Linked DNA regions of Homo sapiens: all the other regions are linked to region 2. Evidence: fine-mapped expression QTL. A gene starts in region 2. Each other region holds a variant in brackets. All regions are shown on one strand. Distances are between the middles of the regions.

Region 1 (2,756 bases), 34 kb after region 2:
AATACTGTGTTTACAGTGGCTCATGCCTGTAATCACAGCACTTTGAGAGGCCAAAGCAGGAGGACAGCCTGAGGCCAGGAGTTCAAGACCAGCCTGGGCAACATAGCAAGACCCTCATTTCTACCAAAAAAAATTTAATTAAGCTCGGTATAGTGGCATGGACCTATAGTCCCAGCCATTCAGGAGGCTGAGGCAGGAGAATGGCTTGAGCCCAGGAGTTAGAGGCTGCAGTAAGTTAGGATCACACCACTGCACCACAGCCTGGGTGACAGAGTGAGACACTGTCTCAAAACAAAACAAATGTTGTATTTGCTTTCTCACTCTTTCCTATCTCCATGATCACATCTTCTCTCCAGTTTTAAATGCCGCACCATTAATAATTCTCTCAGAGTTCCTTGGAGAGAGGTCATGATCTCATCACTCCTAATTCTCCAAAACTAATCATAGAATCTCAGAGTTGGAAAGGACCCAGAAGTCCAATGGGTTCCAAACTTCTTTTTAGTCAGGGACTCTTAACTGCAACCAAATCTTATGTGGAACGTCAATATATATATGTTGACTAGCTGTTGCGGCCTGGCCTCGTAACCCCATGGATTCTGCTTAGAATATGGATTGAAAACCCCTCATGGACGTGAGACTTTGCAGGCTTCAAAGAGAAAGATGGTCCCACCCAGTGGGGTGCCTCTGGTGCTTATCAGGGTACTGATATCTTTGTCATTCCCTGTTCTCTGAGCTCTGAGCACAGCCTGAGTGCTGGTGCTGCCCAGGGGACTGGCTGCAACCAGAGCAACCCAGCCCAAAGACCCCAGGAGGTTGCCATAGACACTGAAGTGGAGGGAGCTGGTGAGCTTGTTATTATTTGTGTGTATCTTCCCTCTAATTGCTGTAGGGTAGCTGGAGGTTGTGTGGGCGCTACAGCAGTGGGGATAGAGGAGGGTGTATGTGCGAGGGTGTGTGTTTGTGTGTGCACACAGAAGTGTCTATAGGCTCCAAACCACCACCGTGGATGCGTCAGAGGCTGCGCTGTTGAGAGAAGTAGTGAGGGAGGAAGGGAAAAGTGAAGTAGAGATACAAAGGAAAAAGGAGGCTGGACAAGGTGGCTCATGCCTGTAATCCTAGCACTTTTGGAGGCCAAGACAGGATGATTGCTTGAGTCTA[C/T]GAGTTTGAGACCAGCCTGGTCAAAATTGTGAGACCTCATCTCTATAAAAAAATGTAAAACTAGCTGAGTGTGGTGGCACATGCCTGTAGTCCTAGCTACTTGGGAGGGTGAAGCTGCAGTGAGCCGTGACAGCACCACTGTACTCCAGCCTGGGGGACAGAGCGAGACCCTGTCTGAGGGGTTAAAAAAAAAAGACGATGGATTGAGTTTTCTTCTAATTGTGTGAATTCTAATTTTCTACTTTATTTGAATGTTTCAAAAAGTAAAAGGCAGTGACAAACCTATGGTAGGGAGTCATATTTGTTGAAAGGCAGCTAGCTCCACTTATATAGTACTATGAGTCACCCCTGAGGCTTCACTCCAATATTTTTCTCATCACTCTTCCTTTTACCTAGAGACACAATGCAAAATGCTTTACGTGGTTACCCCAAAACACCTAGTGTTGAACCCTCCCCTCAGTCGGGATGATGTTCCTCTCACAGCAGGCACATGAGACTGGTCAGGGTTGTAGTCCTGTTTTACATTTGCCCCAGGATACTCCTAGGGGACTCCATGGCAGCCCTCCTCTGTGCTTGTTCTGACCTCTCAGGGTCTCCTCCACTCCACCTTCCATTCATGAATAGAAAGTTTCAAGTATCAGCCTGGAGGTCAGGAAGCAAGTTGCCTTGAGCACTTAGGAAGGGCACATTGATGATCAACTGATATTCAAAGTTGCTTCTGCTTTGGAGATGGATGACAGAAACTCAACACTTACTGGCATCCCCATGTATGCAATCTCATTGCCCTACCCCACACTGGGACTTGGGACCTGGCTCTCACCCAGGTGCTTTGAGATAGGAAGTGGCCTTACTCTCCACTTTACCTCCTGTTGCCCTGGGGAGGGGTAGGGCATGGTGCTCTGGCACTGCTACCCTTTCCCTTGGCCCTCTCTACCCTTCTCCCAAGAGAACTGCTAATGCTTTTCCTTTAGGGCTTCATGCCCTCCCATTCCCTAATCACCCCTACTGGGCAGTCTGGTTCCCAAAGCAGCTCTCAGGGCTGTTGGGTCAGGACAGGAGGGGAGCACTCCTGGAGAGCTCTGCCCCACCCACCCCTCAGGGAGGCAGCTTGGGAGGCTGGGACACCTCTCAGCCCCCTCCTCTGGCAGAGCGAGCCTGCTGGCGAGGGAGACCCGACTCCCAGTGGGCGTCCTGCTGTAATCAAGACTGAGTGGCAGCCTCTGGCTGAGCTCCACCCTGCCCAGTTGGGGCTGGCCTCAGCCTCAGGGGACAGCTGCCCAGGCAGGTCAGGAACCTGCCCAGCCTGTTTGTCCCCCATCAAGACAGTTATGTGCCTCTGTCCCACCAACTTGTGATGGTGGGGACAGGAGAAGGGATGGTATCTCCCTCTGCCATCCCACAAATATTTACTGAGGGTCAGGGGCTGAGTGTACAATGGTGAACAAAAGGTGCAGAGGCCCCGCTTTATTGGAGCCTACAATTCAGCGGGAAGCTAGTTTTTGTATTTTTAGTAGAGACAGGATTTCACCATGTTGGCCAGGCTGGTCTCGAACTCCTGACCTCATGATCCACCCGCCTCAGCCTCCCAAAGTGCTGGG
Region 2 (2,756 bases):
GTCCCCAAATTTCTCTCCCAGTTGCAGTGGAGATCCCCATACCTATTTCACAGTGCTGCCCTCCGAATTTCTTTGGGCAGTTGCACCAGTGAATGTTGGAGAAGTACTTGTTGGACACACATGTTCCTCCATTTAGACAGTCACAGTTCGCTGGAGAGAACAAAGGTGGGGTAAGCGAGGGGGAGTGGAAGTGGTAAGGGGTGGCGCAGCCCTGCAGCAGAGGGCAGGGAGGGGATGTCCCCTGAAGCCTTCCCAACTTGTCTGTGCAGCCAACTGTTGTAGGGGTGGATACTCACATGGAACTTGATGAAGTTCATTGCTGCCCTGGAAGAGATTCGGGAGGAGGCTTCATCAAAGGTCCCATGCTCCAGGGACTCCAGGGTGAGGGTAAACTGGCCCCAATCCCAAAACCCACTCTTCCCTCTCCCTCTCGCCTCACCCTGTTCGTATCTAGTTCTCAAATGGAAGACCATGGGTTTCCAGCCAGGAGAAATGGATTGACCCAAGCAAGCTTCATCTACCAGATGCCCGCAGGCTGGGGCAGTCCCGGCGGCCTCTTCCTCCCTTGCCAGCCAGTGCCAACCCCCGTGGTTCTCAAGCCTCCGCTGCCACCCTGTCCCATTTCCTGGGGAGAGTCTGGCCCTGCTGTGGATGGAATCCGGAGGACCCCAGCTCCCTGAGCAGCCCCTCCTCTCCCCTGGTGCTGATCAGAGGTCCTTGGGCAGCATCAGTCAAAGCAAGAGCGCACTCACTTTGGAGTCGCTCACGACCAGGACGCAGAGAAGCAGGCGCGCCAGCAGGGCTCTCATGGTGGCGAGGTCGGGGCGCTAGACGGCGGCTCTGCAAAGGAAGGAGAAGTCAGGGCAAGAGGCGGAGGAACGGGAAGGCAGGCCAGGCGGGCGACTGCAGCGCAGGGGAGATGCCCGCGGTGACCAGGCTCCCCAGCTGTCTCTCTCCTCTCTGGGCTCCGGACTCCGGGCAGCCTGGATCGGCACCCGCGGGGGACGCCCGGGACGGGGCGCCTTGACTCCGTGCAGCCGCCGGGGAGCCCAGGGAGCCCGGGCAGCCCAGGGCGGGGGAGGCAGACGCTCGGGAGCTGGGGCCGCCGCGCATCCGGCCCGGGGATCTCAGGACCGCGGCACTCACCGGTGGCTGCGGCAGGAGGGCGCGAGCCGGCGCTGCGGGGACAGGTGGACCCTGGCCCGGGCTCCGGGGCTGCGGTCTCCGCACTGTGCTGCGACCCGCGGCGCCTGCTCTATATCAGGGCCCGCCCCGGCGCCGCCCCTCCCTCTCCCGCCCGGCTCCCTCCCCTGTCTTGCAGCGCTCAGCGACCCGGACCCCGCGTGCTTCCGCAACGCTCACAAAGATTTGGGGGAAGCGCGATCTCCAGCGGAGGGGACCCAACAGCGTCTGGACTGAGGAATCGAGAGGCTTGTAAATTCTCCGTGCTTCCTCCCATGCACCTGGCCGGGGGCCTGCCCCAGTGCAAGGAGTCCCCGAATTGCAGAGAGGAGAGAAGGCGCACAGGAGACTCTCTACCTCGCCCAGCTCTGAAGCCTCCTGGGGTCCTCTAATCAGTTCTTCTGCAACTTCTCCCCGCTGGGCCCCAACTTGCCTAAGACTGCCTCAGACCCCCTTGCCCGCAGCTGATGGAGCTGTGAAGTCTTCATCAACGCGACAAATGTACGAGACATACTCTCCCAGAAGCACAGACAGAAAAACCCCTGCCTGTAGGGGCTCCCTCTGTGCGTCTGTTCAGTGGCAGTCCCCAGATATCACCAACACAACCAGTGGATGGAACAAAGCCGGGCTTATTGCTTTCGGCAGTAAGGGGGTTTGTTTGATGGTGCTATCAGAGGGGGAAAGGCAAGGCCAGATTACTGAAAATTTGCAGCTTGGTTTAAAGTCCGTTTTTGACAGGGCTTGATAAGGATTGGGTTAGGTGTCGTGATATGATGTTACAGGATTGTGGGAACAAAGTCCTAGGGCATAAACTGTTGGTGCTTCCTATTGAAGTGTTAACGGGTCTTTTGGGAAGTTTCCATAATGAGCAATTCATTTATTTGTGCAGGCAAGAATAAAAGTAAAGACAATGGAAACATGTAGACAGTTCTAACTGTGGAGGTTCTGGAGGGTGTGGAAGTTCTGTTCTCACCTCTGAGTAGAGGAATTGGGAGACTGGAGGACAAAATAAGAGGAAGATTTATTTTTCACTGTTTGTCCTTTTACACTCTTAACATTTTAAAAAGCACATCTCTGTATAGCCCATTCCAAAAAGATAATTATGCATTTTTTAATGCATGTGTATTTAGTGTTTTACTTCATCATAGAGCCTTGTTTATTCTATTCAGATAGAAACAATTGTTTATCAAATAAAATTGTCCTCCAGAAAAACAGACCATGTGTAAATGACTGCATCCACCCTTCCTGCCTGAGGATAAGCAGACATTTGTGTATACACACACACACACACACGCATCTCTGGGCACACTTGGAGGAACATAGCAGGGATTCTGTGATTCTGTCACCCCCATCTCTTTCCCCTAGTGTCAGGAACCAGGGCTTGGGGTCATTTTGAACCCAGTAGGACTCGCTCTCTTAGTGGGAAGGAGGAGGCTGAGTCCCAGCAATCCACTAGCGGCTTTGGGCCCTTTCCCAGCCTAGGCCTGCAGCATTTTCCTGCCTTGCAAATCTGGACCTTGGGTCTGGGTCCACCTGAGAGTGACAGAAGGAAGGCAGGGAGAGTGCCAGGAAGG
Region 3 (2,756 bases), 30 kb before region 2:
TGAATCCACAGCCATGGCAAGGGTCTGGGCAGTCAACCTGTCAGGCCAATGCCGGGCCTGAGAGTGGAGGAGGGTAGGACTCAGGGACCTCTGAACCTGCTTCGTGAGCCTAAGGGCTTAGCTTGGCCACGGTTCCCTATTAATAGGCTCTGGGTCATGTACAAAACAAGAGAAAGATGACAGAATCTGGGAAGGCTGCTACCACTAGCGACCTAAGGACTCAAAACTTCACACACAAATATGAAGAACCATATATAAAGAAGTGGCTATGGCTGGGAGTGGTGGCTCACACCTATAATCCCAGCACTTTGGGAGGCTGAGGTGGGTAAATCACTTGAGCCCAGGAGTTCAGGACCAGCCTGGGCAACATGGTGAAACTCCACCTCTGCTAAAAGTAGCAAATATTAGCCAGGCGTGGTGGCACACACCTGTAATCCCAGCTACTCGGGAGGCTGAGGTGGGAGGATCACCTGTGCCCAGGAGGCGGAGGTTGAAGTGAGCCGAGATGGTACCACGGCACTCCAGACTGGGTGACAGAGGAAGACCCTGTCTCAAAAAAGAATTTAAAAAAAAGTGGTCATATATAAAAAGCTGCTTTTTCCAGTTTAAAGTTTCCATTTGCAATACATTGGATGAGAATGGGTGAAGGGGCGCCAGCAAGCTGTGGTGGCATAAACTGCTTGACTCACAGTGACTAAAACCTCTGTCTATTTGAAGTGAGCCTTTGCCAGACCCAAAAGGCTCTATTTTCCAAATCACCTGATACCACCTTTGGTCAAGGCACTAGCCATGGCAGCTGCACTAAGCCACAGGCTCCCATAAGCTATTTTTATCTCAAATACTCACTAGGACCCACTGGGTAACCAGTATGCTCAGGGAAAGGTTTGGGGCCCTGAATCCTACCTTCCACCCCAGAGGGATAAAGACCATGAGGACGGTGAGGAAGCATTTTTATTAAATGGTTGATTGAGGCTCCTGTATGCCCTCAGAACAAGGCTTTTCAGTAAAAGCAGGTCAGAGAATTTGACTTCGGCCAGGAGGTCTTAGCAAGAAATCCTGCTCCCTCTTTCTGAATCAGAGTTCATGACCCCAACCAGCTGCACGGAGGAGGATGGCTGCCCTGCTCAGAGAGGCCAGGCCCTTTATGGTCACCACGTGGAGCCGGGAAGGAGAAGAGAAGAAATAGGGTCATGAATTCCCACCCAGCAATCGGACATTTCCCTCCCTGGGCTCAGCAGTCTTGCCCTCAGACCTGGACTTGCCCCCTTCCTCAGCAGCACTTTCAGAACAATCCCTTAGCCCACAGCGTGGCAATAAACAACCGTGCGGTAAACAGAGCTTGTCTTCTTTGAGTCCCCTTGAGCCCAACGTCTTCGTGCTGCCCACCAGGCCACCCCCACGCAGTGTCTCCTACTCCAGCCAGAGCTCGGGGCACCGCCCCATCCCGGGTCGCCTTTCACCGCCAGCCCAGCAGGGGCC[G/T]CCAGAGCGATGCAGATGAAGCCAGAACCGCGCCCGGGCCGCGGAAGGAAGACTCCCACGGGCCGCCCTCGGTTCTTGACGCTCAGTCCAAGTGCCCAGTGGGGACAGGCGCTCTCAGGCTCCGGTTTGGAGCTCTCCTTACCCTTCTCAGAGGTGAAGACTGAGCCAGACTCCTTCCGTTTTATTTTTATTTTGTATTTTTTGTAGAGACAAAGTCTCACTTTGTTGCCCAGGCTGGTCTCAAACTCCTGGGCTCAAGCAATCTTCCCGCGTCGGCCTCCCAAAGTGCTGGGATTACAGGCGTGAGCCACCGCACCTGGCCCCGTTTTATTATTTTAAAAAATGTTGGCCGGGCGCAGTGGCTCACGCCTGTAATCCCAGCACTTTGGGAGGCCGAGGCGGGCGGATCACGAGGTCAGAAGATCGAGACCATCCTGGCTAACATGGTGAAACCTCGTATCTACTAAAAAATACAAAGAAAATTAGCCGGGCGTGGTGGCGAGCACCTGTAGTTCCAGCTACTCGGGAGGCTGAGGCAGGAGAATGGCGTGAACCCAGAAGGCGGAGCTTGCAGTGAGCCCAGATCTAGCCACTGCACTCCAGCCTGGGCGACAGAGCAAGACTCTGTCTCAAAAAAAAAAAAAATGTTTATTACTTCCCTTTCAAAGCTCTAGATATAGATAGATACAGATTTTTAATGCCAAAACAAAGTTACTGAAAGTGTGGTATATCTCAAATGTGTATACTTAGCAAGTCAAAGCTGTGACCCCCACACCCAAATAAATAAATAAATGAGTAAAAGAAAGCCAGGCATGGTGGCTCACGCCTATAATCTCAGCACTTGGGGAGGCTGAGGCAGGAGGATCACTTGAGTTCGGGGGTTCGAGACCAACCTGGGCAACAAAATGAGACACCATCTCCACAAAAAATACAAAAATTAGCTGGGCATGGTGGCGCATGCCTGTAGTCTCAGCTACTTGGGAGGCTGAGGTGGGAGGATCACTTCAGCCCAGTAGGTCCAGGCTGCAGTGAGTGGTGATGACCCACTGCACTCCAGCCTGGGTGACAAAGCCAGGCCCTATCTCAAAAAAAGAAAAAATGCCCAAAGCTGTATTTTGTATTTTTTGTAGAGAGAAAGTCTCACTTTGTTGCCTAGGCTGGTCTCGAACTCCTGGGCTTAAGCGATCTTCCTGCGTCCGCCTCCCAAATTGCTGGGATTACAGGCGTGAGCCACCGCGCCTGGCCCCGTTTTATTATTTTATTATTTTTTTTATTTA

Alleles and levels. Positions count from the first base shown, and alleles are read on the strand shown. Sizes are in standard deviations (SD) of each study's normalised expression. Not every link is listed here.
In carriers of allele T in region 1, the expression in pancreas of the gene that starts at base 1,233 in region 2 tends to be higher than with C alone (large effect, 0.84 SD a copy in GTEx).

The links. PIP is the estimated chance that this variant, and not a neighbour inherited with it, causes the effect.
Region 1: its variant is fine-mapped to the expression of PLAU in pancreas (GTEx, PIP 0.99).
Region 3: its variant is fine-mapped to the expression of PLAU in whole blood (TOPMed, PIP above 0.99). The same link has a PIP of 0.9 or more in blood mononuclear cells.

The regions. Positions count from the first base shown.
Region 1 is chr10:73,875,925-73,878,680 of GRCh38, reverse strand. No RefSeq gene overlaps it. Among named protein-coding and RNA genes, the nearest start is that of CAMK2G, 2.7 kb to the right of the region's middle. The variant C/T (reference allele first, on the strand shown) is at 1,159.
Region 2 is chr10:73,909,609-73,912,364 of GRCh38, reverse strand. PLAU (plasminogen activator, urokinase) reads right to left here and starts at 1,233. Exons shown (of 11, transcript NM_002658.6): 1 at 1,147-1,233; 2 at 753-840; 3 at 297-324; 4 at 43-150. The coding sequence starts at 809. C10orf55 (chromosome 10 putative open reading frame 55) reads left to right here. Exons shown (of 5, transcript NR_160938.1): 4 at 81-165; 5 at 270-2,396. RefSeq lists a silencer at 687-1,286 and enhancers at 2,252-2,756, 2,558-2,756.
Region 3 is chr10:73,939,499-73,942,254 of GRCh38, reverse strand. No RefSeq gene overlaps it. Among named protein-coding and RNA genes, the nearest start is that of C10orf55, 18 kb to the right of the region's middle. RefSeq lists an enhancer at 1,391-1,550. The variant G/T (reference allele first, on the strand shown) is at 1,480.